Homo sapiens: one gene and its partners. The protein of the gene in region 4 interacts with the protein of the main gene of each other region in a pairwise test. Each region holds a gene or a part of one and is shown on either strand. Other genes may lie near its edges.

Evidence for each region.
Region 1: the proteins of APOL6 (region 4) and CHURC1-FNTB interact in binary tests that used the Homo sapiens proteins (3 or more experiments, as listed by UniProt).
Region 2: the proteins of APOL6 (region 4) and FNTB interact in binary tests that used the Homo sapiens proteins (3 or more experiments, as listed by UniProt).
Region 3: the proteins of APOL6 (region 4) and RGS13 interact in binary tests that used the Homo sapiens proteins (3 or more experiments, as listed by UniProt).

What each region holds. Positions count from the first base shown.
Region 1 is NC_000014.9:64,909,811-64,917,374, forward strand, and holds the start of CHURC1-FNTB (CHURC1-FNTB protein), read left to right. Parts: upstream 1-4,550; 5' UTR 4,551-4,604; coding exon 4,605-4,724; intron 4,725-7,564. Other genes in the region: CHURC1 (protein Churchill), read left to right, coding at 4,686-4,724. UniProt on the Homo sapiens protein: Essential subunit of the farnesyltransferase complex. Catalyzes the transfer of a farnesyl moiety from farnesyl diphosphate to a cysteine at the fourth position from the C-terminus of several proteins having the C-terminal sequence Cys-aliphatic-aliphatic-X.
Region 2 is NC_000014.9:64,989,883-64,996,906, reverse strand, and holds part of FNTB (protein farnesyltransferase subunit beta), read right to left. Parts: intron 1-7,024. UniProt on the Homo sapiens protein: Essential subunit of the farnesyltransferase complex. Catalyzes the transfer of a farnesyl moiety from farnesyl diphosphate to a cysteine at the fourth position from the C-terminus of several proteins having the C-terminal sequence Cys-aliphatic-aliphatic-X.
Region 3 is NC_000001.11:192,631,166-192,639,170, reverse strand, and holds the start of RGS13 (regulator of G-protein signaling 13), read right to left. Parts: upstream 3,025-8,005; 5' UTR 2,854-3,024; intron 1,582-2,853; 5' UTR 1,511-1,581; intron 1,008-1,510; 5' UTR 968-1,007; intron 1-967. UniProt on the Homo sapiens protein: Inhibits signal transduction by increasing the GTPase activity of G protein alpha subunits thereby driving them into their inactive GDP-bound form. Binds to both G(i)-alpha and G(q)-alpha.
Region 4 is NC_000022.11:35,651,446-35,658,469, reverse strand, and holds part of APOL6 (apolipoprotein L6), read right to left. Parts: intron 4,867-7,024; exon of another isoform or gene 4,750-4,866; intron 2,092-4,749; 5' UTR 2,045-2,091; coding exon 1,995-2,044; intron 1-1,994. UniProt on the Homo sapiens protein: May affect the movement of lipids in the cytoplasm or allow the binding of lipids to organelles.

The DNA of each region.
Region 1 (7,564 bases), on a different chromosome or scaffold from region 4:
CATAAAGGCTGGGGCACTTATTTGCTCCTTTCAACAAAAGATGAAAATAATAGATATGATCAGCATTGTGTCATCACTTCAGACTCTTGGCTTAAGACAGCATAAGACAAAAGAAAAAATAGAAAGAAGGTGTTAAAAGGAGAGTCAAACTGCACTCTTTAGGGAAAATTTTCATCTTACCACAGGGATGTAGTTTAGCACATGTAACTGAGCCAGCAATTAGGGCCATTTTAACATTTAGATTTTCTTTAATCAATTCCTTTTACAAGAGGTGATCTCATACGTAAACTGCAACATGGTTTGTTTGATATATCTCATGGACATCACATATTTATTAGAGACCCATAGGGGCAGGGTATTTCCCCAGAGAAAATTCTATTAGAAGATAAAATTGATTTTGCAAATTTTATTTTATATAGTTACCTATAAGAGAAAATATTTTTCTGTTTATTGTTTTTCTTATGTTACATCACTACTTGTTCATTTCATTCAGGTGCTAATCTTCTGCTTTGTAGCCTCTATTTTCCTTTCTCCCATCTGTCAACCTCAGATACTTTTATATTCCCATTACCACAGTCACACTTTAATTTCTGGTCCTGGCTACCTCTTCCCCCAAGTCTCATTTCCTGCCTCTCTTCTCTGAATGTGGCTAGATTTAAATGGAGGACTTCATTGGATAGATAGCCCTGAGCTCTTGAGCTTTTGTGACCATAAATATGACAACTTTTTTTTTTTTTTTTTGAGATGGAGTCTAGCTCTGTCGCCCAGGCTGGAGTGCAATGGCACGATCTCGGCTCACTGCAACCTCTGACTCCCAGGTTCAAGCGTTGCTCCTGCCTCAGCCTCCTGAGTAGCTGGGATTACAGGCATGCGCCACCATGCCCAGCTAATTTTTGTATTTTTAGTGGAGACAGGGTTTCACCATGTTAGCCAGGAGGGTCTCGATCTCCTGACATCATGATCCACCCGCCTCAGCCTCCCAAAGTGCTGGGATTACAAGCATGAGCCACCATACCCGGCCGACCTTTTTTTTTTTTTATCTTGCTCATTTTAATAACAAGTTATGATATAACTCTGGGAAGGTAAAAAAATTTCATAAATATGTAGATTGTCTTTCATGCCTTAGAATATGAAATCAATTCATGCTAATGGGTGTACTCTTTAAGATCTATGACTTTAGTGTAATTTTTAATTAATTTATTTTTGTTGTGTATATTCTCAGTGATGAGGCAGAAAGCTATACATCTCCCCCTTGTGGTTCCTGCTAACGTCTGCCTTTGGCATGTCCATTTTTTTCCCAGTTCCAGTAAGTCCCAATAAAATGCAGCTAAAATAATCTTTTTTATTTATTTATTTTTTAGGGACAGAGTCTCACTCTGTTGCCCAGGCGGGGGTGCAAGCAGCATGATCATAGCTCATTACAGCCTCAAACTCCTAGGCTCAAGAGATCTTCCCATCTCAGCCTCCTGAGTAGCTAGGACTGCAGGTGCACACCACCACACTAGGCTAATTTAAAAATTTTTTGAGGTCATCACTATGTTGCCCAAGCTGGTCTTGAACTCCTGGCTTCAAGCTACCCTCCTGCCTTGGCGTCCCAAAAGTGCTGGGATTACAGGTGTGAGCCACCACACCCAGCCTAAAATAATTTTAAACCACAACTCTGGCAACACTCTCCTGCTCAAACCTTCAGTTGCTCCCTACCACATGCAGAATAAAATCCAAACTCCTTGGCATGGTTCACCTGAAATTTCTATACAAAACAAAACAAAACTCTGCTTTTTGAAATTCTAAACATGCTTTAAGGCCCAAATTCCTCTTTCCTAATCCTCCCCCTGGGTGTAGTCTCATCATTTTGTGTTCTTATACCCCAATCTGCCAGTAATTATTAGTATTTGTGCTCATTTTATCTCTCAGACTAAATTGTAGCTGGGGAGTAGCAAAGGATTAAAAGTCAGTATTAGGCTTTAAAAACAGAGAAACCATTTAAAAATGGATGAAGAGAAAGAATTGGGCCAGGTGCAGTGGCTCACACCTGTAATCCCAGCACTTTGGAAGGCCGAGGCAGGTGGATCACTTGAGACCAGGAGTTCGAGACCACCCTGGCCAACATGGTGAAACCTCATCTCTACTAAAACTACAAAAAATTAGCCGGTTGTGGTGGTGTGCCCCGGTAGTCCCAGCTACTTGGGAGGCTGAGGCATGAGAATCGCTTGAACCTGGGAGGCAGAGGTTGCAGTGAGCCGAGACTATGCCAGTGCACTCCAGCCGAGGTGACACAGTGAGACTGCCTTAAAAGAGAGAGAGAGAAGAAAAAAAGACTAGCCCTGTCCAATAGGAATATGAGAGCTACATGTGTAATTTTTAATTTTCTAGTAGTCACATTAAAAAAGCAGGTGAAATTAATTTAATAATACATTTTTATTTAACCCAGTACGTCAAAAATTATTTCAACGTAATCATATAAATTTATTAATGAGATTCTTATATATTTTAATACTAAATCTTCCAAATCTGGTGTGCAGAATGTACTCACAGCACAATCTCAGTTCAACTTGCCATATTTAAAGTGCTTTATAGCCATAAGTGGCTAGTGCTACTGTATTAGAAAGAAATTGAGATAAGGATAGCAACAGAGTCCTAGCCCTGGCTGACTACTGAGTAGCTTTGTTACCATAGACAAGACCTTTAACCACTCACTTCTGTGGTTTCCTTATCTGAAAAGAGGAGACATATTTTTCTTACCAACCACATAGGATTGTAATAGCATAAAATTAGAAACTGAAATGAGGACACTTTTGAAAGGTTGAAAATGTCATACAAATGGGAGGTATTATAATTATTCTAAGAATAAGGTAAACTCTGATGGCTCTAGTTCTTGCAGTGTTTCTTAGCACACCTATGATTTTTAATAACAGTTGCAGATACTTACTAGAAGTTGAAATACTAAAGGTTACAACTTCAGTGCTTCCGTGGAAAAATAATTCCCATATTAGCAAACCCATTTAAACTGGTGTGCTTTGAAATGGTTATTAATCTCTTCTTTAAGGAATCTGGATCCCAGAGTCTCCCAGGCTCCCCAATCTTTCTTCCCTGACATGACAGCAATAAAGCAGGGCTGAGGGAGGATGTTGATGTTCCCATTGGGGTAGAGGAGTGTGATAAAGACGCATTGTTCAGAAACAGAGACAAACTTCGGAGATTCGTCTGCAAGTTAATTAGGTCGTTGCGAATAAATAAGATGCTTTCAATACAGAGAGAAAGGATGAGGCGGGGCAACAAGCACAAGCATTTTGAGACCCACAGGATTGGGAAATGATGCAGGAACAACTGACCTGGCCATTTTTCTTTCTTTCTTTCTTTTCTTGGAAGCACATATGTTTATTGGTTTTTTAATCTGTGAACCAATAGGTCATTTATAAATGGATGTGCAAATCTGAAATCAAAATATCTGCAGTCAATTCAATTAGATAATTTTTGAAATCTATTTATTTTTAATATACTTTAAGTTCTAGGGTACATGTGCACAACGTGCAGATTTGTTACCTATGTATAGATATGCCATGTTGGTGTGCTGCACACATTAACTCGTCATTTACATTAAGTATATCTCCTAATGCTATCCCTCCCCCCTCCCCCCACCCCACGACAGGCCCCGGTGTGTGGTGTTCCCCACCCTGTGTCCAAGTGTTCTCATTGTTCAATTCCCACCTATGAGTGAGAACATGCGGTGTTTGGTTTTCTGTCCTTGCGATAGTTTGCTCAGAATGACGGTTTCCAGCTTCATCCGTGTCCCTACAAAGGACATGAACTCATCCTTTTTTATGGCTGCATAGTATTCCATGGTATATATGTGCCACATTTTCTTAATCCAGTCTATCATTGATGGACATTTGCATTGGTTCCAAGTCTTTGGTATTCTGAATAGTGCCACAATAAACATACATGTGCATGTGTCTTTATAGCAGCATGATTTATAATCCTTTGGGTATATACCCAGTAATGGGATGGCTGATGACCTGGCCATTTTTCTATTTACATAGTGCTTGCCCGCCACTGAGGTGCTTCTGTGACACCTGAGAGAGATAGAAATACGTTCCTCGTTGCTATGTCCTCCAGAGGACTCTGGAATGACCAATTATTACTAATATTTTAAGTGTTTTTTTAGGAGATTTTCTGCAGCACTCTGAGTGTCTCTTCCCAAACACTTCGGTTACTGTTTATTCACCTGCTGAGATCTGGTCTCTTATTCACTCTCATTGCCTTAAGAAATGGTACAGAAATGTATTCATTAACATTTCAGATTTGTATATGCGGTAGCGAGAAATAATTCCCTTTCTTGTGTGTCGTGATTTGCCTTTCTTGTCAGCCTAAGCTCAGGAAGGTGTCTGTGAGAACTTCGCTCAGCCCAAGATCCCTTTCCCTTCCCGTCACATCTGTTAGCGCACAAGATTTCTTCGTCTGTCTCCAAAGGTTTCTGAAGCCCCACCCTTTGCCCACGCACGGTGCCAAGGAGACTGTGCCCTGCCTTGACAACAGTTGCTAAGGGGCGGAGACTTCGGCTCGGTTCCCGAGACGGAATACCCAGGAGTCGAGTACTTGGGCGCATGCGGCAACCGTATCTCAGTTCTCGCGAGGTTTCGTCTTCCCGGAAGCGTTGGAGGACATTCCCTGTTGACTGCGTCGCGATGTGTGGCGACTGTGTGGAGAAGGAATATCCCAACCGGGTGAGCGACTGGGCGCTCCCTTGGCCCGCGGGCGGCCCCCGAGGTGTCTCATATCCAAGGCTGGCCTTCCCAGAGAGGCCGTACGTGGGGCGGACTCGGCCGCACTGCCGGTCCCGGTGACCCAGTAGCGGTATTTAGGCACACCAGGGATGGCCTGTGGCGGTCTGCACCTCTGGTACCCGCCCTGGCGGCTGACCTCAGTTGTAGTGGCCGTTCTCTTGAGCTCCAAGGAGCAACAGAGGAACCCCACCACCACCACAACCCCCGTCGACAACCGAGGGACTCCCCCACCCCCACTTCCGGTCTCATCCTCAAGCTCGATTTGATGAAGTACAATTTTCTTACCGAATTCTAGCGCTGGAGGGGACCTCTGTGGTCATCTGTTCTAACACTTTTGCAGATGAAGAAACCGATGCCCAGAGAGGGGAAATCACTTGCCCAAGTTCACATTCTAGTTGCATGGATGAGAGCCAGGACTAGAATTTAGGTTTCCTGCCTGTTACCGCCTTCTGAATCTCAGTTACTTTCAGGTTCAGGAGTTTGCAAAGCTTGTCTATTCTCATTCATTCAAGGCATCCTTGTTGAACATTTATATATGTGTAGTTAGATTACTTTGCTAGGCCAGAAAGGGATTATTTCTCCTCTCTTTGAGACAGGGTGCTGCTGTTGCCCAGGCTGGTCTCAAATTCCTGGGATCAAGTGATCCTCCCGCCTTGGCCTCCGAAAGTGCTGGGATTACTGGCATGAGCCACCACGTCCAGCTGGATTATTTGTTTCAGAGAAGAAATTAAAAGGCACCTTTGGTGCTGCCTAACAGCTTACAGTTTTGGGGAGTATGTGACTAACAAAAAATGAGTAGCTCAGTTCAGAAATGCTATTCAAGTTTAGGGAAAGGGGAGGGCAATAGGGGATAGTGCTGTTCTCCCCTGAGAAAAGGTGGACATCATCTAAGACTTGAAGGACAGTTGTAATTAGGGTAGAAAAGAAGGTGAGGAGCTGGAGGATGGGGGAAAATTACAGAAATGGAATTTGTGCATTGGTTGGGAAGGAGGGAGAAAGTCTCTGTAGTTCCTTATGTCTTAGTATCTTATGGGTAATACTTAGGCTTTTGAGTAGCATGTATAACAGTATGAATTCTCCTGTAGTACAACTACTTTGAAAAAGCGGGTGAGCCTTATAAAATACAGACATGACCCAGTGATTCCCATTCTAGAAAAATGCATGTGTATATGCTTCTGAAGACTTTTATAAATAAGTGTTCATAACAGCATTATTTTTGTAGTAGATTGGAAAAGTAACTGATACATTCATTAGAATGGAACACCATTAATGAATGAGGAATGGAAGTGAATGAATTAGAGCAGTAGTTCTCTACCAGGAGTGATTTTTGGCTCTTAGGAGACATTTGGCAATATCCAGAGACATTTTTTGGGTGTCAAAAGGGGAAGTACTACTGACTGCTAATGGGTGATGCAAGGGATGCCGCTAAACATCCAGCAATACATGGGACAGCCACCACAACAAAGTATCACTCCCAATGTCAATAGTGTGGAGGTAGAGAAACCCTGAATTATAGCCGTGAAACCAAACTAGAATTACACAGCAGCCTGAAAAGTCTTACAAATAGTGTTGATGAAAGAACACATAAAGTATAATTCAAAAAGAGGCAAACCAAAATATATTATTCAAGGATGTACCTGGGTGGTAAAACTGTAAGGAACGTATACAATTACTGTTAAGTCGAGATAGTGGTTACTCCTAAGGGATTAGGGTGTGATCAAGAAGGGTCACATGAGAAAAAGTCTTCCCGGGTGCAAGCAGTGTTTTATTTCTTGATTTGGGTGGTGGTTCTACAGATGTACACTTTATAATCATTTCTTGTTCGCTACATTTATGTTTCATGTACTTTACTATGTACTATTTCATTTTTTTAAAGTTTAAAAAGATTTTTATGAAACCAGTAATAAACATGAGCTATTATGAGACCATGAGGGAGGAGTTTGCAGTAGAGAATATTAAAGAGATTAGGTTGGATTCTTTTTTGTTGTTGTTTTTGTTTTTGAGATGGAGTCTTGCTCTGTCGCCCAGGTTGGAGTGCAGTGGCATGATCTCGGCTCACTGCAAGCTCCGCCTCACTGGTTCATGCCATTCTCCTGCCTCAGCCTCCCGAGTAGCTCGGACTGCAGGTGCCCACCACCATGCCCAGCTAATTTTTTTGTATTTTTAGTAGAGACAGGGTTTCGCCTTGTTAGCCAGGATGGTCTCGATCTCCTGACCTCGTGATCCACCTGCCTCGGCCTCCCAAAGTGCTAGGATTACAGGCGTGAGCCACCGCGCCGGGCCTTAGGTTGGATTCTTAAGAGTGGAGTTATTGTAAAACTTAAAAGTCATATTGAGAAGTTTAGAGTTTACATTTTAGGCATTGGGCCACCATCAAAATTTTAATAGAGAAATGATTCTGAAATCTGTTATTTAGGAAAATGAATCTTATGGCTGAATGTTGAAATGGTGGGGTAGAGGGTGTGTAAAGACAGAACTCCACAGGGCATTTGAGGAGCCATGGCAACAGTGGTGTAGGCATGAGATAATGAAGACCTTATTTCAAAGAAAGAATTAGGTTGGGCACGGTTCTCACACCTGTAATCCCAGCACTTTGGGAGGCCAAGGCAGGTGGATCACTTGAGCCCAGGAGTTTGAGACCAGTCTCAAACATGGCAAAACCCTGTCTCTACAAAAAATACAAATAGTCTGGGCACGGTGGCTCACGCCTATAATCCCAGCACTTTGGGAGGCCAAGGCTGGCAGATCACCTGAGGTCAGGAGTTCGAGACCAGCTTGGC
Region 2 (7,024 bases), on a different chromosome or scaffold from region 4:
CAACTTATGATAAGGGCTGCTTCTGGGAAGGGTGGCAGGCACACTGAACTGGGGATAGGGTTAAAGGAGGCTTTGGCTATATTTCTAATTGCTTTTCCTTTAAACAAATAACCAGAAGCAAAAAAAAAAAAAAAAAAAAAGATGTTAGCAAATGTTAATTCTCAGTTATAGAAAAATGGCTCTTAATTACATTATTATACTTTTGTTAACCATAAATTTCTTAGAAAAATAAAGGAAAAGGATTTCAAAGTGCTTAGTTTTGTGATACCTCATCCCCTACACCTACTTAGATAGGCAGGCCACAACATACGCAGAAGCTGTGTTCTCAAAGTTCATTGGTTTTTAGACCTTATTTGTTTTCCCATCAACACAATGTTATACCTAACTGTTAGGTTCCAAGGCCAGCTCTCCCATTATTTAATGTATAACCTAACAAATGTTAAGCCTAACAGTACCTCTCTCACCTTCTCTAATCATGAGGCAACTGATCACTCACGATATGGCAAAAAGGGAACCCAAGAGTTGAGTTTACCCCTGCTCCTGACAGGGCACAGGCTAGATGTTTCTTTTCTTTTCTTTCTTACTTTCTCTCCCCTCTCTGTCTTTCTTTCTTTCTTATAATAGAGATGGGCCTCACCATGTTGCACAGGCTGGTCTCAAATTCCTGGCTTCAAGCAGTCCTCCTGCCTCAGCCTCCCAAAGTGCTGGGATCACGGGCATGAGCCACGGTGCCCAGCCCAGGCTTGGTTGTTTCTTTTCTTTTTTCTTTTTTTTTTTTTTTTTGAGACAGAGTTTTGCTCTTGTCATGCAGGCTGGAGTGCAATAGCATGATCTCAGCTCACTGCAACCTCCACCTCTCAGGTTCAAGCGATTCTCCTGCCTCAGCCTCCTGAGTAGCTGGGACTACAGGTGCCTGCCACCAGGCCTGGCTAATTTTTGTATTTTTAGTAGAGATAGGGTTTGACCAAGTTGGCCAGGCTGGTCTCAACCTCAGGAGATTCGCGTGCCTCAGCCTCCCAAAGTGCAGAGATTACAGATATGAGCCATTGCACCCAGCCCCAGGCTAGGTGTTTCTGTGTACAGAATGTTTTCAAGTTTGCTGGTCAGGCTTTATACATACATACATACATACATACGTACATATACATACATACACTTATATGCACACATGTATATATATAAAATATATACATATATAATATACACATATATCTTTAAAATATATAATATAAACTAAGTATGTATCAACTTATAAACTATACACACATATATGATATAAACTAATATAGTAATGTGCCACATAAGGATGTTTTGGTCAAGAACGTACCCCATATTCCACGGCAGTCCCGTTAAGACTATGATGGAGCTGAAAAATCCCTACAGCCTAGTAACACAGCTTTCATGATGTTGTAGCACAAAGCATTACTCACATGCCTGTGGTGATGCTGGTGTAAATAAACCTACTGCACTGTCAGTGTTATAAAAGTATAACACATACAATTATGTACAGTACATAACACTTGATAATGATAATAAACAACTACATTACTAATTCACATGTTTACTATACTATATATTATTATTTTAGAGTGTAACTCTACTTATTTAAAAAATTAACTATAAAACAGCTTGAGGCAGGTCCTTCAGGAGGAATTCCTGAAGAACGCACTGTTATCCTAGGAGATGACAGCTCCATGCCTATCACTGTCCCCGAAGGCCTTCCAGTGGGATGAAATGTGGAGATGGAAGGCAGTGACACTGATGATCCTGACCCTGTCTAGGTCCAGGCTAATGTGTGCGTTTGTGTCTTGGTTTTTAACAAAGAAGTTTAAAAGGTAAAAAGAAAGTTAAAAAATTTAAAGTAGAAAACAGCTTACAGAATAAAAATATACAGAAAATATTTTTGTACAGCAGTACAATGTGCTTGTGTTTTAAACTGTTATTACAAAAGGGTCAAAAAGCTGTAAAAAAATTTTTTAAGTTCATGAAGTAAATAATTTACAGTAAGCTAGGTTTAATTTATTATTGAAAGAAAAAAGCGTATGAATAAATTTAGTGTAGCTTAAGCATACCGTGTTTATTTTTATTTTTCATAATGTCTGCTCAGTAACAAGTGTACAGTGTTTATAAAGTCTACAGTAGTGTACACTCATATCCTAGGGCTTCACATTCATTCACCACTCATTCACTCACTCACCCAGAGCAACTTCCAGGCCCACAAGCTCCATTCATGCTAAGTTCCCTAGATAGGTCTATCATTTTTTATCTTTTATAACATATTTTTACTTTACCTTTTCTATATTTACATATGTTTAGATACAAAAATATTTACCATTGTGTTCCAATTGCCTGCAGTATTTAGTACAGTAACATACTGTGTAGGTTTGTAGCCTGTAGCCTAGGAGCAACAAGCTATACCATATAGCCTAGGTGTGTAGTAGGCTATGCCATCTACATTTGTGTTAAGTACACTCTATGATGTTCACATGACAAGGAAATTTCCTACTGACAATGTATTTCTACTGTTAAGTGATACATAACTATATGTATATTAGTTTGTATTGTTCAGTAATGGAGAGATTGTGTTAGACTCTAGGGGCCAGGGATCAAGTAACTGTACTAGGGTCCCCAACACTTAGGTGCCATGGCAATAAATAAATGAAGAGCTAACCAAATGCCTGCATTCTGGACAGCTCTGTTTAAAAGGTATTTCATGGAGTTTTTCATTTAATCAATAGAAATCCAATCACTAGGCCAGGCATGGTACCTCACGCCTGTAATCCCAGCACTTTGGGAGGTGGAAGCGGGTGGATCATTTGAGGTCAGGAGTTTGAGACCAGCCTGGTCAACATGGTAAAACCCCACCTCTACTAAAATACAAAAATTAGCCGGGTGTGGTAGCACATGCCTGTAATCCCAGGTACTTGGGAGCCTGAGGCAGGAGAATCGCTTGAACCCAGGAGGCGGAGGTTACGGTGAGTGGAGATCGCACCACTGCACTCCAGCCTGGGCGACAAGAGCGAAACTCTGTCTCAAAAAAAATAAAAATAAAAAAAGAAAAAAAAAAAGAAATCCAATCAATAAAAGCAGAGAATAGTTTCCATTCAGTAAGTGGTAAACAACAACTAATGCATTTGGCACTTTCTCTTTCACAGCTTCTATCTAAAGCCAATCTCATGAGGCACCAACTTTCATACCAGGCACTATCACTTCTCTGCTTCCTATATCTCCCTCCTCTCCCAGAGACAGAATGTTTCAGAAAGTAGATTTGCTGCCTAAGATTCATGTCATTGAAGCTGCAGTAGAAGAGTCATTTAATATATGAAATATAAGGCAAGACTTTTCAAAAAAAATTCTCTCTCAGAAAATACAAGTCACTTTATATTCAAATACTTACAAAGTACCTCTTGCTGTAGGAAGTTTTGCAATTTCCTTATTTTGAATACAAAGTACCAGCTGGGGATGACACAATACCCTAAAACAACCTCAGTTAAGGCTGCTTTGGCTAATGGTAATCAGTGAAACAAGATAAATTAAACACAAATTTAGTAATTATCCCTGGAGATATAAACTCACACTTCCATGTGTAAACTGCCATTGTAAGGCCAGCTTTTTATTTTGTTTATTCATTTTTTACTTTTTTTAGAGATGGAGTCTCACCCTGTTGCCCAGGCTGTCTCGAATTTGTGGGCTCAAGCTATCCACCCACTTGGCCTTCCAAAGTGCCAGGATTACAGGCATCAGTCACCATGCCTGGCCAGTAGACCAACGTTTTAAAGATCATTTTAGCTGGGCGCGGTGGCTCATGCCTGTACTTTGGGAGTCCAAGGTGGGCGGATAGCTCGAGTTCGGGACCAGCCTGGGCAACACAGGGAAACCCTGTCTCTACAAAAAAATATAAAAAGTAGCCGAACATGGTAGCGCACGCCAGTAGTTCCAGCTAGTCAAGAGGCTGAGGTGGAAGGATCACTTGAGCCTGGAAAGTTGCTACAGTGAGCCATGATCATGCCACTGCACTCCAGCCTGGGAAACAGAGTGAGACCCTGTCTTTAAAAAAAAATAGAAATCATTTGAAAAAGTAATAAAGTGGTTAAGTTGCAGTGACCACAAATATATACCAACTGGAAACACTGCAAAAAAAAAATTCTAGGCTCACGTCTGTAATCCCAACACTTTGGTAGGCCAAGGCAGGCCTGTGAGGTCAAGGCTACAGTGAGTGGTGATTGCATCACCGCACTCCAGCCTGGGCGACAAAGTGAGACCCTTTCTTAAAAAAAAAGTCTAATGTTATGCAAGTGGATACTTGTAACTTGGAATAAACTGTTCAGTGGTAACACCTTATTCATATTCAAAAACGATGTATCTCAAGAACTGAACATGTGGTCCGGAAATCCACATTGGCTGACTCAAAAAGTGGCTCCAGTGATGATAAAAATAGTGAAGTCAAAGATGCATGTGAAGAGTCTGAAAAGAAACATTTTATAAATAAGAAGAGGAGGAAAACCAGCATTTCTAAATTAGTGTTACTTTATAAAGTAGGTGATTTTAAGTAGGTATATGGACCCAAATTTAAATGTAAATTTTGTAAGCAGGTATTTTTCACTTATATACCTAAAAGTACATGTATTTTCAACTTGACCAAAAACAACCTTTTGGACTTTTTAATGGGGAAATTTTGATATGCAGGATTACTTTACACTTGGGCAATATGGTATATGCTGAATTTCAATAAAATAAAATGGATTCAGAAAGCTAGCCTACTGACCACCTAACCAAGCAGAGCTCCAGTCCCTTCTATCAGAGGCATAAAAAGTTGGGAAGTTTTATCATATTTAGTGATTTGTTCCACCTCCATTTACTAATATTTTGGATCCTATAAGCTGAAATAAGTCAACAGCAGGTCAGGATTCTGTTCCGCTGGTCCCTCCTTAGGATATGTGGTGGCCCACTGCCCGAACCTGAAGCCAGCACATCACCTGCCTCTTAATACCCTGATAGGGGCCCACCCGCCCAGCTCACCTCATTTCCTACCACATCCAACCTGCACCCTCCGTTCCTGGTAAGCCATCTTAACGCCCCCAGTCAAGCCTGAGTCTTCCCTCAAAACAGCTCTCCCTCCTTGAATGGCTGCCCCAAACTCTATTTTTTACAGCCCACCCAGTTCCACGTTCTCCATGAAGTCATCCTGACCACCTCAGCCCACACAGATGGCTTTTCAACTCCCCAAAATCCTCGTGCAAAGCAGTTATAATTTAGCACTCTGTGACTGCCTATAGCATATTCTTCTTATTTTTTTCTTTTTTGAGATGGAGTCTTGCTCTGTCACCCAGGCTTGAGTGCAATGGTGCAATCTCGGCTCACTGCAACCTCCGCCTCCCAGGTTAAAGAGATTCACCTGCCTCAGTGTCCTGAGTAGCTGGTATTACAGGTGCACACCACCACGCCTAGCTAATTTTTGTATTTTTTTAGTAGAGATGAGGTTTCACCATGTTGGCTAGGCTGGTCTCAAACTCCTGACCTCCAGTGATCCGCCAGCCTCAGCCTCCCAAAGTGCTGGGATTACAGGAGTGAGCCACCGCACTCGGCCTTACAGCATATTCTTTTTTATCTCTCTAAGATAAAAGAATTTTGAGGGCAGGGATCAAGACTAATAATTCTCTTATATTCCCCTCAGAGTTCAAGTCACTTCATTGACAATGAACCATGCCAATGGTTCAATGACACCATGCCATTTAAAGTGGAGGACGCGTTTGCCTCTGTTCAAAGACAAACTCAAAGAAAAACAGTAGTATCTTTTGTAAACACCTGTTTTTGGCAAGGCTGCTACCTCTGAGACTATCAGTATTAACCTACTGGCCTGAATCAGAGTGTCTGCAATGGGATGATTCCAGATGGCACAATAAGGAAGGCAGGCACTAACAATACAACCATGTCTTGTTCTCTAGTGTCATGAAAGGCCCTCCCTGCATCTGCATTAACAAAACAGCTTAGCAAGGTAGAGACCTTCATAAAAATATCCAGAGCTGACCATTTCTCATTACCTCCACTACCGTCACTGTGAGCTAAGCCACCGTCACCTCTCTCCCAGGATACTGCAATAGCCTCCTAACTGGTTTCCCTGTATCCACCCTCACTCCCCACCATCTACTCTTGACAGTAACCTAAATGAGCCTGTTAAAATGCTAGTCAGACTGTGTCACTCCCCTGCTCAAAACTCTCTGATCATGGATCAGTCTAAGTCCTGGCAGGAAACAGATGGCACAAAGTGGGTGATTTGAGGAGAGTTTATAAAGGAACTATTTACAAAGATGTGGGCAGGTGTAGGGAAACCACAAGAGAAAATGCAGTATCTGGAGCTGGTAAATCAGGGGTACCTGAACTCCTCATAGACCTGAAGGTGTGAAGGATGGAGAGGGAGGGAGACAAAGAGCTCCGCAGAGAAGGCACATGACAGGAAATGTGACCTTAAGTCTAAGGAAACCCCACCCCACACAAGCCTGCAGGAGGGAAGAAATACAGTGGTCTCATTCTTCTCCTTCTCGGTCACCCCCAGCAATACTTCCCATGGCCCGCAGCCATAAAGCAAGGCAACCTGTCAGTGCAGGGCCCCCTCCTGGGGCACATCTACAGAGCAGGCTAGAAAAGGGCCAAGTGAATCTGGGGCAGTAAATGGCAGGTATACAGCCAAGTGGCTCTCCATCTCAGTCAGGGTATTTTAAAGTACTTCCAAAGGCCAATGAGACCCTACATGATCCGACCCATCTCCTACTCTCTGGTTTGCTAAGCCCCCTGCTCACCTGGCATTCTGCTGCCTTGGTCCTTTGTGCTTGCTGCTTTCTCTGCCCAGAATACTCTTGCACCAGATCCATGATGGCTTCCTCCCTCATCTGAGACTTCAGGTCTCAGATCACATGTGTTGTCACCAGAGGGTTCCCCTTAACACCTTATATGAAGACCTCCCCTGCTCCCACCCCACCCATTCCTGACACACCCTATCCCCTCTATCCCAAGGTGTTACTCTCCA
Region 3 (8,005 bases), on a different chromosome or scaffold from region 4:
TGGGGCTTCATCCATGTGGTGAAAAGGCTACTTTTTAATAATTCCAGCAAAGACTCTGTGTACACTAATAGTAGCCCTGTGCTCAGCTACATGACTGATTCAGTGAGGGTTCTTTGGTCCAAGCAACTTATTAGTTAGGTGACATTGAAAAAGAAGCAATATATATAGATATAATGTTATTTATATTTCTGATTTATCTACTCCTACTAGACTTTAAGTTTCCTAAATTGTTACATTCGAATGTTATTTGATGATTACATATAAGTAGTTGTTTATATGTTGGTTAGCATTCTAAGTCAAACATTTACAGATTTATTAAATTATGGAATACAAATAGAATATAATGTCATAAAAGCATCAATGATTAAATTGCAGAAAATATTTAGTGACAGAATTGTGTATGACATGTGTTATGCATAGAATAAATAGACCCTAAGAGTTGTTATGCATAGAATAAATAGACTATAAGAAGTTCTCTGGTATTCCTGTCCTTTAGGAAATGGAACTGGAGACTGGACGCTGTTCCAGTGACTAGAGTTCTGCTCCTGTGCCTGGAGCCTGGTGCCTTCCCGCCTGTATTCTAAGATTTCTGGGACTGAAAGTCCATCCACATGTTTGTGTTTCTCTCTATTGATTACTACTGGATTCACACGTACCATGTACCACTATTTTGTTGGAATATCACAGAACCCCCCACCCCCATCCTTATAACACTCTCTACATTGAAACAAAGAGATAAATTAAAAAATACTTAACCCAGCTTCAGGTACAAAAGGTCAGATTGACCACCTGAGTTTATTATCTCTTCCAACCCAAACACTAATAATATTATAGTAAAGGAACATGTACGGCTTAAACTGAAGGAAAAAGGAGATTAACCAAGGGGAAAAATAATGACAAAATATTCCAAAGTAATTTTGGAAGATGGAAGGCAGATGCTCAGAAGTAGAAATTAAAATTCTCATACCTCTAAAATGAGAAGAGAAAAGGCAGCGTTAGAATATCATCTGATAAAATAAGAAAATATAATTCACAGTCTGAGGACAAAGAATTTGCAAAATAACCATTGGTTTAAAAAGAAGTATCTACAATCCTACATTCAACAATATTTATCATTAAATAATACATCTCAATCGACAGTTTAATAGCACCAATATAGAGTGGCAGAATGAAATCCTCTCACATTTACAATTGAGAACTTCTAAGAAATATCCTTGGTAATTCCATAAAGGGAATGTTCTAATTTTTTACAAAAGTAAAGTTCTTTAGGATAAGGATTTGATTAAAACATCCTATTGATAAATTTATTTTGTTAGTTAAATCCAACCAAGGGCATCTTTAGTTGTACCCTTAAAATTAGAGTTCAAGTAGTCAATATGGATAAAAATAAAAAATAACTTTAAATATTTTATAGAACTACAAATCTACTTTGGCAAAAAGAGAATTCCCAGTGAAACAGTGATCTAAATTGGCATGACGTAGAACTGATTTAAATTGTGGATAAACTCACCAAGCTTCAAATAAACAATGATCATTTTTTTCTCATGTTGGTGGTATAATATGTGGAAACATTCCATTGACCTAAAAATAAAATAATAACAAAACCAAACAAAAACAAAAAGATTATTGTGTGCTTCCTGGAGAATGCATATTTGGCAAAGATTACTGTAAATGCTCTTAAGTTTTAAGTAAATACTTTTTCCACCTCGGAAATGCTGGATTATGGTTATTCCCATTTTTATTTATTAACTCTTTATCTAAAATTGTGTTAATATCATGGCTTATTATAAAAATTTCTTTACTGTTTTAATTTGTAATTTTCCATTACTTTTTATTTAAATAATCTATATTTATCTTAATATTGTGTATTAATTTGCTTTCCTTTTTTGTTTTTCAATACCCTCTTGGTAAAACTAGTGTGTACTTTTACAATCGAAACATAGAGTGTTTAGAACAAGTTTAGGTCTCCACGATGATTTTGCCTCCACTGTTTTCTCCTGATAATTATTTGAAAGAAATACATTTCACCGATAGAATCTAATTCTCAGAGTGATTATAAATGCATTGGTAATGGATTGAGTTGTATTAGTAGTATGCCAGAATTAGATTTGTTTCCTCCATTATTTAAATGAAATCTTAAAGTATTATGAAAATAAATAAATTTTCTTAAAGCAATTCTGTCTGTTTACATATATCTGCATTTAAATATGTTTCTTTATTTTATGATATAGCATGTTACATAAAATTTAGTAAAATTTGGAGCAATTTATATTTTAGTGAGCTTTTGTTGACCACAGCACACAAATTTCTTGTCCTTTAAAAAATTCAAGAAATTTGTGCATAGTTGTGCTTAAGCATAACATAAAAGAATAAAAAAATTCTACAAAATCAAGATTAACAATGTTTCAGATAAACCTTATAATAATCCACACCTGGCTTCAGTACAGTTAACAAAGGATGGAACTAATAATTTGGTAATGCATGATTTTTGAAACAAATAATTCAGCTATGTCTGATTTTATAATATGTTTTTATCTAAACATATAAAATGAAAAACATTTAAAATGAAAATATACACAAAAACATAAAATGAAATAATATACTTTAAAACTGTAGCATTTCCTCTGTTGCCCAACTTAGAAGATTTATTTATATAAGGAGTGACTCTAAGTTTTGTTTTAAATATAGAAAGCCAGGCAAAAGAATATGTGTTTGTTAGTTTGTCTTTTTTTCTTAGAAAAACCTCTGTTAACACTCCCAGAAGTTCTACCATTGAAATCAGCATCTGCTAGTGATTTATAGCAAGCCAATAGTCTTGTATTTATCAACTATTTTATAGAATCTCATACTTACAAATATATCCTGTCGAGCAGTCCACCATGCTAAATTTGATCTCCTCTTTGTTATGATCCGTTTGAAATCAGGTTCTGAAATTTTGTGAGACACCCAGCATTTTATTTTTCCCAGAGTAAAAGGATTTTACTGTCTCTATAATTACCTTCGATGGCACTCTGGCCTCAGTATGAATGTTCTGTTTTTACACACACGTATCTATGCAAAGAGAGGTTTTGTTGAATATGGAAAGTAGTGCTGTAGGACTCCAGTGCATTACTGATAAAGAGGTTTTATCTAACATTATCAGACCATCTGAAGTGATCAGATGATTGGAAGCAGCAGCTTCATGAAATCTTCAAAGTAATACTCAAATCTTTTTCTCCAAAATAATTTTTCTAGTTTTAGAAAATGTATAGTCTAAAGTAAAATTCCCTTTTAAAAAAGACAGAGAACTGAGTACAAACACATAGGACATCACTGCAAACACATGTTAGCAAATGGTTGAGAACTATTAAAATCAATCTGTTTGTAATAGATTACTAGGGACTTTTAACAACTGAAGGATCTAAAAAAGTATCTTTTCTAGTTATACCTCTCTAGTTCCTTCAACTGGTCCTCTACAGCAGTTCTGGACTCCGTTGTTCTACAGTTTGTTAACATGCCTTCAAAATCTGAATTGAACACAGTGCTTAAGATAAGGTCTAATGAATACAGAATATGGTAAGATTGTGAATGCCCTTGTCCTGGATTTACTCCAATTGTGTGTGTGTGTGGGGAGGGGTGGGGGAGTTGGGGGGTTTGGGGGGAGAGAGAGAGAGAGAAACAGAGAGGTAGGAGTAAAGAAATGCTAGAATAAAACAGCAGTAAAGAAGATCAAAATGTGGTTGATGGAGTGTTTCTTAAAATATTTAGGGGCCCAATGAGATAGAAGATTAACCTTACTTGTCTTTTATAATTTTGAGATTCAAACCCAAGAAAATTGAATTTCTCAAACCTGAGAGATAAGTTTGGGACTAGAAAAGGAAAGGAAACTTTGGAAAGTCAGAAGCTGCGTAGATGTAGCAATAATGTAGGAAGTGAAGGGCAGGTTAGCCTCAGCTTGGGAGGATCTGGGTTGTTTGTGGATAGCACTCATTTTCTCTGGGTGCTAGGTGTGCGATTTCCTCCCCACTCAGGACATTTTGGATGCTGGATCTCTTCAGGAAATCTTCAGTGTCATAGTCAAGACTTTTCCTCACCCCAAATAATTCATTTTTTTGGGATTTGGAATGTTTGCTCTTTCTCATGGTGTGGATGCAAGGAGCTGGCAGGAAGATTCTGGAAGTAACACCCTGTGCGAGTGTCAGTTTCAAAGCTTGTTTAATGGAGTCAAACATGAGAATCTCCCTACAGAGTAAAACTTAAGTATCGACAGGGACTGAAAAACAAATAAATCATAGAGTGAAGAGTAACAGCACGAGTAGGTGGAAATTCCTGGAGGAATTCAAGAGCAATGTGTAGATATTTGTGGCAGATTTCTAAACATGGTTTTGTTTCTCTGAAAAAGTGTAGTTCAAGTTCAGTTTATGAAATCATAGCAATATAATGCTTTGTACGGCACATAGGTGGATCAGACTAATTCAGAGCTGTCAGGTTAGGGCAGGTAACAGGATTATGCTTTCGTTGGTGCAGCTTGGGAATGCCCTTTCCATTGAAAGGCTGTCCTTCTGATGAACTGATCTGCTTACTCTAGAGCACTTTTACTATATTTCAATTTCAGCCAATGTAAGTCCAAAGTAACACAAGTTCAAATGTGCACAATTAAAAATCTTTAATATTTTTATGTTGAAAGTTCAAAATGAACTTTACAAGAGCAGAAAAATGAAGTATTAGAAATTATAAATTCAGAATTTGCCATTTATGTCTTCTACAAAAAGTGGAGAAATATAATTACTGGTTAATGTTCGTGATGACAGCTTAAGAAATAAGCCTACTATTTTCAGTGCATCCTATTTATACTATATAGTGTTTGCCATTTGTTCAGAGGGTGGCTCTTTTCAATATATTCTAGAAGCAAGATAAACTCTTGGACACTGGGGTGAATTGTCTGGTGAAATGTATCCAGTAGGCAGTGGTTTGTGCCAGTGTTTGGAAGAAGACTGGCTTCTGCTCCTGCTTTCCATGGACGCTGATCTGTCCCTCTTAGCCTTTCAGGTCTGTCCTCTCTGCCTTCATTTTCTTCCAAGCTTCTTTGCAGCGCATTCTCAGTCTGTCTTCATACACTCATTGTCCGCATCTTGGAGTGGACGACTCAGAGACTTGACCAGTCTCCCGTCCCCTCTGGTTTGCTGCCAATTAGAAACAATCTAACTTTGGTTTCTGACTTGTGTGAACCCAAAATATACCGACAACAAAAATTAGGAAGAGATTACTGAGCATTGAACACTATTGTTAGCATAAAATAAACCTCAGTAGCAATTAAAGTTAGTTACCAATTCTGTGTGCATTTATTCAGATGATTTGCTTTAAAGATGTCTTTAATTATAATCATGGTCCTGTTATGCTATAAAGTTTAGTCACTAACTCCCAATCATTCTTAGTTCCCTTTTGGTAGCTGCTTTAAATCCATTCTCTTGGCCCTTCCAGAAAGTCGGCAGTGCTCTCAGGTTTCAGATCTCCAGCATGTAATTGAAAAAACCAGTGGTCCTACTTGGTTTCTATTTTCTTCTGAGCACTTGGTGGATTGTCTTGTCCTTCCTGACTAAATTCTGGGGAATTCATTCAAATCTTATTGTTTCCACCAGTGTATTTGGGGTAACATTAACATAGGAAAGTGTTCTTTTCCCGGAAAAAAAAAAGGAGACACTCCACAGTTGTTTAATTTGCACTGAGATGAGTCTATTAGCTCTTTTGTACTTTCACATTGTTTGATCTGTGAAATTCTCTAAGGATGGGGTTAAGGGCACGTCCCTTTGAAGAGGATTTGCACTGGCTCTGTCAGGCAGCCCAGGCACTTCTCTAACACAAGACTGCTTTGTTATTTTCTTAGCTTGGGTCTCCTGGACCACACAGGTAGGGTAAATTTAAATTACAGACCTGGTTTTATGCTGAAATAGACATGTTCCTGTCATCAATTTTTGTAGGTGACTTGTTTTTTTTCTGTCTGCTGTTTCACTGAAGGTATAGCAGTTCAAGAGCCCCCGGCTCATATTAGGACAGCCTTTGATTTTGTTTCCTGGCTTGCAACAGATCTTAAAAGCCAGATCTCTAGGTTACTGAGATTAGCAAATGCTGAACTCAGCTAAACTTTAAATGCCAGTTTATCACTCTGATTTAGGATTCCCTCTGTTTTTTTCTTGATTTCTCTTAGTTTTGGCAAGCTTGCCTATGCATTTAAATGGGGTTGTTACATATTTTTTTTTAGCATTTCTGGATGTCTGGTAGAGAGAAGATTTTCAAGATATGTCTCGTCTACCATGCTTTCCTTTTATATAAGATAATGTTATATACTCATTTTAGATAAAAGTAAATGCAATAAAATGTCAAGGAAATTGGAACTTTAGCATTTCCTTGTTATCACAGATGGAAAGCATCGTTTGCTTCTTTAGATGCGGAATGCTTTGAACATACAAGGCCCACTGATGTGCAGTTGCAAAGCTGAAGCCTGTTTCCAATCACCTAATCAACTCACTATCCCTTATTGTTTAGATAAGCCTGTCCTGTTCTGCCATGTGCAAAGTATATAAATTTTCTACTATAGAAGTACAGAACAAACATACTTGTGCCACATTTCCGGTTTTTTTTTTCTTATCACAGAAATTAAAATGGTTTTTCTGTAGATCACCATTGAAATACTTTTTGTCTTATTCTTGAAACAAATCTATCCTCAGGACTTACGTGGTGTCTGGTGATTGAGGGCAGTAGATGGCTAGGTAGTGAATCAGAGGCAGGGAACATTTTAAAAGAAATAGGTACCTCAGTCAGCTGATAGGAGAGACTAAAAGAGCGCAGAGCTCAGAATTAGCCTGCATTCCTTCTCCCTGCTTTACCAAAGGAGTCTCCCACTTTTCTCATTCATGCTTCAAATGCATATGTGGACATAGCATTCAGACTGATGTAGTAGATGCTCAATAAATATTCAAAGAATAGATGGATATAGTTTTTTTTTCCCAACAGGATTTATCCAAGCTAAAAACTACCCTAATGTTCATTTTAACCAATTTTCACTTAGATAAAAATTATAGGGTGAAGTTTGGGAAGGATTATATTGTACAAGCTTCCCATATCTCATACTTTCCTAAGAAGTAGTTCTGCCTCTCTGACTGTAACCTTTTTGTAACCTATAATTTGTGTAGTGGTTAATGAGATATATCTGGAGATGCTTTGTAAGTATAATTTACACAAATATATATTTTTATGAGGCATGCAAATTTAAACAATGGTGTCCTTGTGACTTAGTCAAACAAGGAACTAGAATAAAATACAAGGCAAATGTTTTTCTTTAGGATTATGACACTATATCTTAAAACCTCTGAAAGATATGATAATGCAAATAAGATTAGATAAAACAAGTTTAGTTTTGTAGAAAAGGCAAAGAATTTTAAAAATTGCAATCCCAGAAGCTTCAGAAACCTACTTTGGTATGCTTTCCTCCATACAAAAAGTGTTGTTTAATTCCCCCTCAAGTCTGAATATTTGAGGAGTTGCTTTAAGAACTGTAAAACTAGTGCATCAACTACATGCTTTTTGCAGATATGGAAAATATTTTCTTAAAACATTTTTACACAAAGGAAAAGTAATTTTGCCCAAAGAAAATAACATCCAAAGGAAAATGAAGAGTGATTGGTGTTATAAGAAATATAATCCTGGAGGCCTGGAACTACATAAGGCATCCTGAATGTACAGCGTGGGGCCAATAGAGATTACACAAATGATTTTTATAGATGAAGCTGAGCAAAGGGGCAGAATGGGAAGAAGAACAACGGGGACCGAGACACAAGAAGGATGACTTTTGTTTGAAAAAGAAAATGTTCAGGGCATTAAAAACACATGCCCTTTTTTTACCCCATAACATTTTCAAACACTACAGAAAATAATATCTAATAAACCGTGAAGCTTGTTTTAACTCTTTTAAAAACTTCCAAACAAAGGAACTTAGGAAAAATGGCATTCTAGTTATATTTTCCCCCAG
Region 4 (7,024 bases):
GTAGTTCAGCCTTCGCTGAAAACTACTGGTTCCATGGAAAAAAGAAACACATAAGAGGGGCATGTGGAAGGACAAATGTGAATCACCCCAGCCTTGGTCAAGGAATGGGGAAGGAAAATTAAGTCCTGAGGTATGTTTTCAGCCTTGTTCAGAGAAAGCACAGCACTGCTGCAGAGGAGGGGCAGTGGGGAAATGTTAAAACCCCACTCAAGATAAAGAACTTGGGAACAATGGCGGGAGAGTTCTGGGAAAAGTAGGAGAAAGAGAAGACAAGGTGGTGGGCAGGGGATGAGCGTCCCAGATGTGTAGAAGTGAGTAGGAGGGTGGAGGGGGCCATATTGCATCATACATCCTCCACTCTAATGACCTCGAATCTGGTTACTCTGGGGTGTGTCTTTGCTTCTATCAGGAGTTGCACATTGAGAGTTGAGATAAATTATTATTCATGTCCTGAATGCTCTCCTTGCTCTTGGTCAGCTTTACTTGACCCTTCAAGCAGATGGGATTAGTCCTTCATGGAAGAAGTTTGGGACAAAGAGACCTAGGCCCCTCTTCCTCCAACATTTTACAGGATGAAGTACGAAGGGATCTTTGCCAGGCCAGTTGGCTTTGACCTTCAAGGCAGAGCTGCATCAGGGTGAGAGCAAAGCCTGCTGCTTGGGGCATTTTCTCATGCAAGGTGCCATTTGTGCATTTCCTTCAGGGTGAGCCGAGGAGGCCTGGTGATAACAGATGCCCTGGCCCAAAGAAGAACATCAGAGCTGGAGGGAGGCCTGGAGAGGATCTGGGCCACCTCCTTTATGATTCAGTGGGGGGCCTCAAGCCCAGAGAGAAAAGAGGACACTCCCAAAGGAACATGCAAGGTAAAGATGGAGCATTGGGTGGGCTCTGAGTCCTAAACTTGGTGCTTTCTGCCTTTCCTCTCACCTGTCAGTTGATGTCAGGGCCTCCTCATTGAAGTATATGTATGTCCATAAATGTATTTATCTTTAAATCTCTCTTTCCACACACACACGCACACAATTCCTCAGTGGGAAAGATTAGAAACTAAATATACCATCGAGCATATGTTTTAAGTGTTAATGAATTAATAAATTTAGGCACAATTATCTATTAATCCACAGGTGTAAATCAGTTAACAGAGCAGAAGGTCACCAGGGCTTGCAATGGGGAAGGGGTGGGATGAAGGCAAGCGGGGTGGCCCTGACAAAGAACCCCAGACATAAAAGATGCCATAGGTTAGCCCACCCTGATCTCTGTGTTTCCTCAAGGTATGCTAGACAAAAAGAAACAGCAAATAGATATGTAGCTGCAAAGATCAACAACGCCACTGTGTATGAACTGTAAAGTTTTTGGTTTTAGCATGGTTGATAACTAACAGAAGCTTGACTTCATGTGTTTCTTAATTAAACCAAGCGTCTCACATGTGAACACCTCTGCTCCAGTGAATCCTGTATCAGCTGGTGATGTCTACTGGCATTGGATAACATTTCAGTCCAGTTCCATGACATATTACACATAGAGTTCGTCTAATTCACTCAGCAAATATTTGTTACTTGCACACATTGTGCAGGGGGCCGGTGGTGCTACGTCTGCTGATTTACAGACAACTGGGCTTAAATTCATTAATTTGTTAACACCAAATGGCTTCCTTCCTTGGTGATATATGAGCTGAAGAAATGGAGTTCCTGTCTTCAAGACAGTTGCAGAGATGAGGCCCCAGAGTGGAGCAATTTTTGTCTTTGGAGTCCTATTGCCCAAAGCCATGCGCCTGACTTAATCTTGACTTGCTCTCCAAAATATTTACTTTAGCTCCATGAAGTATTTTTTTCCCTAGGGGAACAGATTTTCATATGCATAATGGAGACCAGCGGTAAGATAAGGCCCACTTAACAGCTAATCCTATCAGAGCACATGTATTCCTTATCGTGAGGATGCCTGCAGCATTTCAACAGAATCAGCCCTCTCCCTGGGGACTACACCCTTTGGATTACCTTTGCAAACCAACACCAGCCTCACTTTCTCTCTCCGCCTGGTTGTCCATCAGCCTCTGTGGCAGCAAATCTGTGTCCCCAGGAGTCAAATGATTTTCTGGTCAGGAATGTAGAAAAACAACGTTACTGCACATATGATGAAACCTTATGAAATTCAGGTGTGGAGGGATTTTGGATTATGTACTATCAAAATAACAACCACATAGCATACTAAATATTTGCAAACTATTATTTGAAAATTGTATGTTGAGGTGTAGCTTACATACAATAAATGCATACAGTGAAATAGTCAGTTCAATACATTTTTACCTCTATATTGGAGGGTAGCAGTATACACCATCCCAAAATATGCCACTTTGGCATAAGGATTATTTTGAGCCAAATGTAATTGAGAAGAAGTGGGTACAAGAAAAGTTCTCCACCCTCCCTCTATTTGCCTAAAAGCAAGACATAAATTGACAAAGGTAAAGCTGTCCCTTGTCTCCTCACTAACAAGAAGGATAAAGTTTGATCACCAAAGATGACATTGACTTACTTTCCCACAAGTTGCTCCTGCTGGAGACTCAAAACCCTTTTCCATTGTCTTGCTACTTCTCTAAAAATGTACTGTTCATTGTTGGAGATGTATTGAAGCTGGAATTCAAAGCTACCTCTTTGAGAATTATTTAATCCCTGGATCTCTCCCATGTCCATATGAAATAGACATGTTAATACGCTTCTGCTTGGTTTTCTCTCGTTAATGTGTCTTGGGTTACAGGAGTCTGTTCCAGCTAAGAACTTATGAGGGTTGAGAAAAAAATTACTTTTCCTCCCATACATAGCCAAGGGCTGGTAACAACTCAAATACATCAATCAACAGAAGAATAAACAAACAAATTATAGTTTTTTTATATAGTTAAATATTACATAGCAATAACAATTTTGAAAACTACTGATACCCAAACAACATGGAATAATTTCACAGACATTATTATTGAGTGAAAGAAATCAAACAAATGGCTCCATTTATATGAAACTCAATAATATGCAAATGAATTGGTTGTAGAAGTCAGAATCGAGGTTTCTTCTCGGGTAGTGCGATTATTGACTGGGAGGAGGAAGTACAAGGAAATCTCCTTTTCTCCATCTTGACCTGGGTAAGTGATTCCTTAGATGGATATTATAAGAGAGGAAAAAATAATTTTCCCTCTGCCCTTCTAAGTTCTCAGCTAGGATCCTTGTAACCCAAGACAGATTCATAAGAGAAAAACAAACAGGAGTGGATTAATATGTACCTCTTAAGTGTATGTAGGAGACACCAGGGAATAAATAATTCTCAAAGGAGTGGCTTGGAACTCCCTGCTTATATAGCCACCTTCAACAAAGAACTATACAATTTTAGAGAAGGGACAAGATGAAGAAAAAAGACTTTGCATCTTGAGGGCCACCAAATTGTGGGTAGACAAATAAATAGGAAATGAAGGATAGAAAGAAACTAGTCAGTAAGTTTTGTTACGCAGCTTCCTCTGGTACCATCTCCAGGCCTATAAGGGTCTAAAGTTCTCAGTGGTTAACCTTTATTCTCCTTGATAGAAAGACCTTTGTAAATTTAGATCTTGCTTTTAGGCAAATAGAGAGAGGACAGAGAACCTTCCTGCATCTGCTGCTTCTTAATTGCCTTCGCCTCAATAATCCCTATGCCAAAGAGGCATATCTGGGGGTAGCTTATTCTGTTCTCTCACAATTATGACCACATAGACTGTAATGATTAAAGGATCATTTTCACCAAACAAAGCAGTAATTTACAAGGCCCCTTTGTACAAATTGTATTCCCAAGAACATAATATGTTGTGATATTGTGATTTATAATTATATATAGATATATAATTACATATACGTGTGTATATATATGTGTGTGTATGTGTGTGTGTGTATATATACATATATATATATATAGAGAGAGAGAGAGAGAGAGTTCTTATCCCCATTTCTGGCACAGGGCTCTTAAAACCCTTGGAATTTCCTGAGCGATGAGAGCAGTAAAGGTGAAAAGAGCATCTTTTCTTAACCATAACCGACCCCTTTTAGCCACACCCGAGTTTATGTTAATGAGGTGACTTTAGAAAGCCTCCAAGGATGGGGGGCTGCTTGTCTGGGGAAACAACCATGTGATTTGAGGGTTGGAATATTCAGCCCTACCCCTTGAGTTCCAGGAGAGGAGAGAGACGGGAGATTGAGTTAACCACAAATGGCCCATAGTTTCTTTAATCCATCATGCCTGTGTAAGGAAGCCTCCATAGAAACCCAAAAGGACAGGGTTCAGAGAGCTTCTGGGTTGGTGAACACATGGAGGTACCTGGAGGGTGGTGTGCCCAGAGAGGGCATGGGAACTCCATGTCTCTTCCCCCATATCTTGCCCTGTGCATCAATTCCGTCTGGCCATTCTTGAGTTGGATCCTTTATAATAAACTAGTCATTGTAAATAAGTGTTTCCCTGAGTTTTGCAAGCTGTTCTAGCAAATTATTGAAACTGAGGAGGGAGTTGTGGAAACCTTCCATGTGTCACCAAGTTGGACAAAAGTTGTGGGCAACCTGGGGACCCACCACTTACAACTGGTGTCTGAAGTAGGGGCAGTCTTATGGGACTGAGCCCTTAACCTGGGGGATCTGATAGTATCTCCAAGGAGATAGTGTCAGAATTGAGTTAAACTGTAGGATGCCAAGTTTGTTCTCATAAAGAAGTGGAGAATTGCTTGGTGTAGGGAAAAAAACTCACATATTTTGGTGACCAGAAGAAGGTAAATTGGTGTGAGTATTGAGGGTAGTAGTAGAGTTCAGCCTCCTTCCTTCACCTCTCTCGCACACGCCCTCTTGCCCTTCTGCCTTCTGCCTTCTGTCATGGGATAACACAGCAAGAAGGTCCTTGCCACGTATCTCAAAATAATAAGAGCTATCTATGACAAACCCACAGCCAATATCATACTGAATGGGCAAAAACTGGAAGCATTCCCTTTGAAAACTGGCACAAGACAGGGATGCCCTCTCTCACCACTCCTATTCAACATAGCGTTGGAAGTTCTTGCCAGGGCAATCAGGCAGGAGAAAGAAATAAAGGGCATTCAATTAGGAAAAGAGGAAGTCAAATTGTCCCTGTTTGCAGATGACATGATTGTATATCTAGAAAACCCCATTGTCTCAGCCCAAAATCTCCTTAAGCTGATAGGCAACTTCAGCAAAGTCTCGGGATACAAAATCAATGTGCAAAAATCACAAGCATTCTTACACACCAATAACAGACAAACAGAGAGCCAAATCATGAGTGAACTCCCATTCACAATTGCTTCAAAGAGAATAAAATACCTAGGAATCCAACTTACAAGGGATGTGAAGGACTTCTTCAAGGAGAACTACAAACCACTGCTCAATGAAACAAAAGAGGATACAAACAAATGGAAGAACATTCCATGCTCATGGGTAGGAAGAATCAATATCATGAAAATGGCCATACTGCCCAAGGTAATTTATAGATTCAATGCCATCCCCATCAAGCTACCAATGACTTTCTTCACAGAATTGGAAAAAACTACTTTAAAGTTCATATGGAACCAAAAAAGAGCCCACATTGCCAAGTCAATCCTAAGCCAAAAGAACAAAGCTGGAGACATCACGCTACCTGACTTCAAACTATACTACAAGGCTACAGTAACCAAAACAGCATGGTACTGGTACCAAAACAGAGATATAGACCAATGGAACAGAACAGAGCCCTCAGAAATAATGCCGCATATCTACAACTATCTGATCTTTGACAAACCTGACAAAAACAAGAAATGGGGAAATGATTCCCTGTTTAATAAATGGTGCTGGGAAAACTGGCTAGCCACACGCAGAAAGCTGAAACTGGATCCCTTCCTTACACCTTATACAAAAATTAATTCAAGATGGATTAAAGACTTAAATGTTAGACCTAAAACCATAAAAACCCTAGAAGAAAACCTAGGCAATATCATTCAGGACATAGGCATGGGCAAGGACTTCATGTCTAAAACACCAAAAGCAACGGCAACAAAAGCCAAAATTGACAAAGGGATCTCATTAAACTAAAGAGTTTCTGCACAGCAAAAGAAACTACCATCAGAGCGAACAGGCAACCTACAGAATGGGAGAAAATTTTTGCAATCTACTCATCTGACAAAGGGCTAATATCCAGAATCTACATGAACTCAAACAAATTTACAAGAAAAAAACAAACAACTCCATCAAAAAGTGGGCGAAGGATATGAACAGACACTTCTCAAAACAAGACATTTATGCAGCCAAAAGACACATGAAAAAATGCTCATCATCACTGGCCATCAGAGAAATGCAAATCAAAACCACAATGAGATACCATCTCACACCAGTTAGAATGGCGATCATTAAAAAGTCAGCAAACAACAGGTGCTGGAGAGGATGTGGAGAAATAGGAACACTTTTACACTGTTGGTTGGACTGTAAACTAGCTCAACCATTGTGGAAGTCAGTGTGGCGATTCCTCAGGGATCTAGAACTAGAAATACCATTTGACCCAGCCATCCCATTACTGGGTATATACTCAAAGGATTATAAAACATGCTTCTATAAAAACACATGCACACATATGTTTATTGCGGCACTATTCACAATAGCAAAGACTTGGAACCAAGCCAAATGTCCAACAATGCTAGACTGGATTAAGAAAATGTGGCACATATACACCATGGAATACTATGCAGCCATAAAAAAGGATGAGTTCGTGTCCTTTGTAGGGACATGGATGAAGCTGGAAACCATCATTCTCAGCAAACTATCGCAAGGACAAAAAACCAAACACCGCATGTTCTCACTCCTAGGTGGGAATTGAACAATGAGAACACATGGACACAGGAAGGGGAACGTCACACACCGGGGCCTGTTGTGGGGTGGGGGGAGTGGGGAGGGATAGCATTAGGAGTTATACCTAATGTTAAATGATGAGTTAATGGGTGCAGCACACCAACATGGCACATGTATACATTTCTCCGGGTGAAATT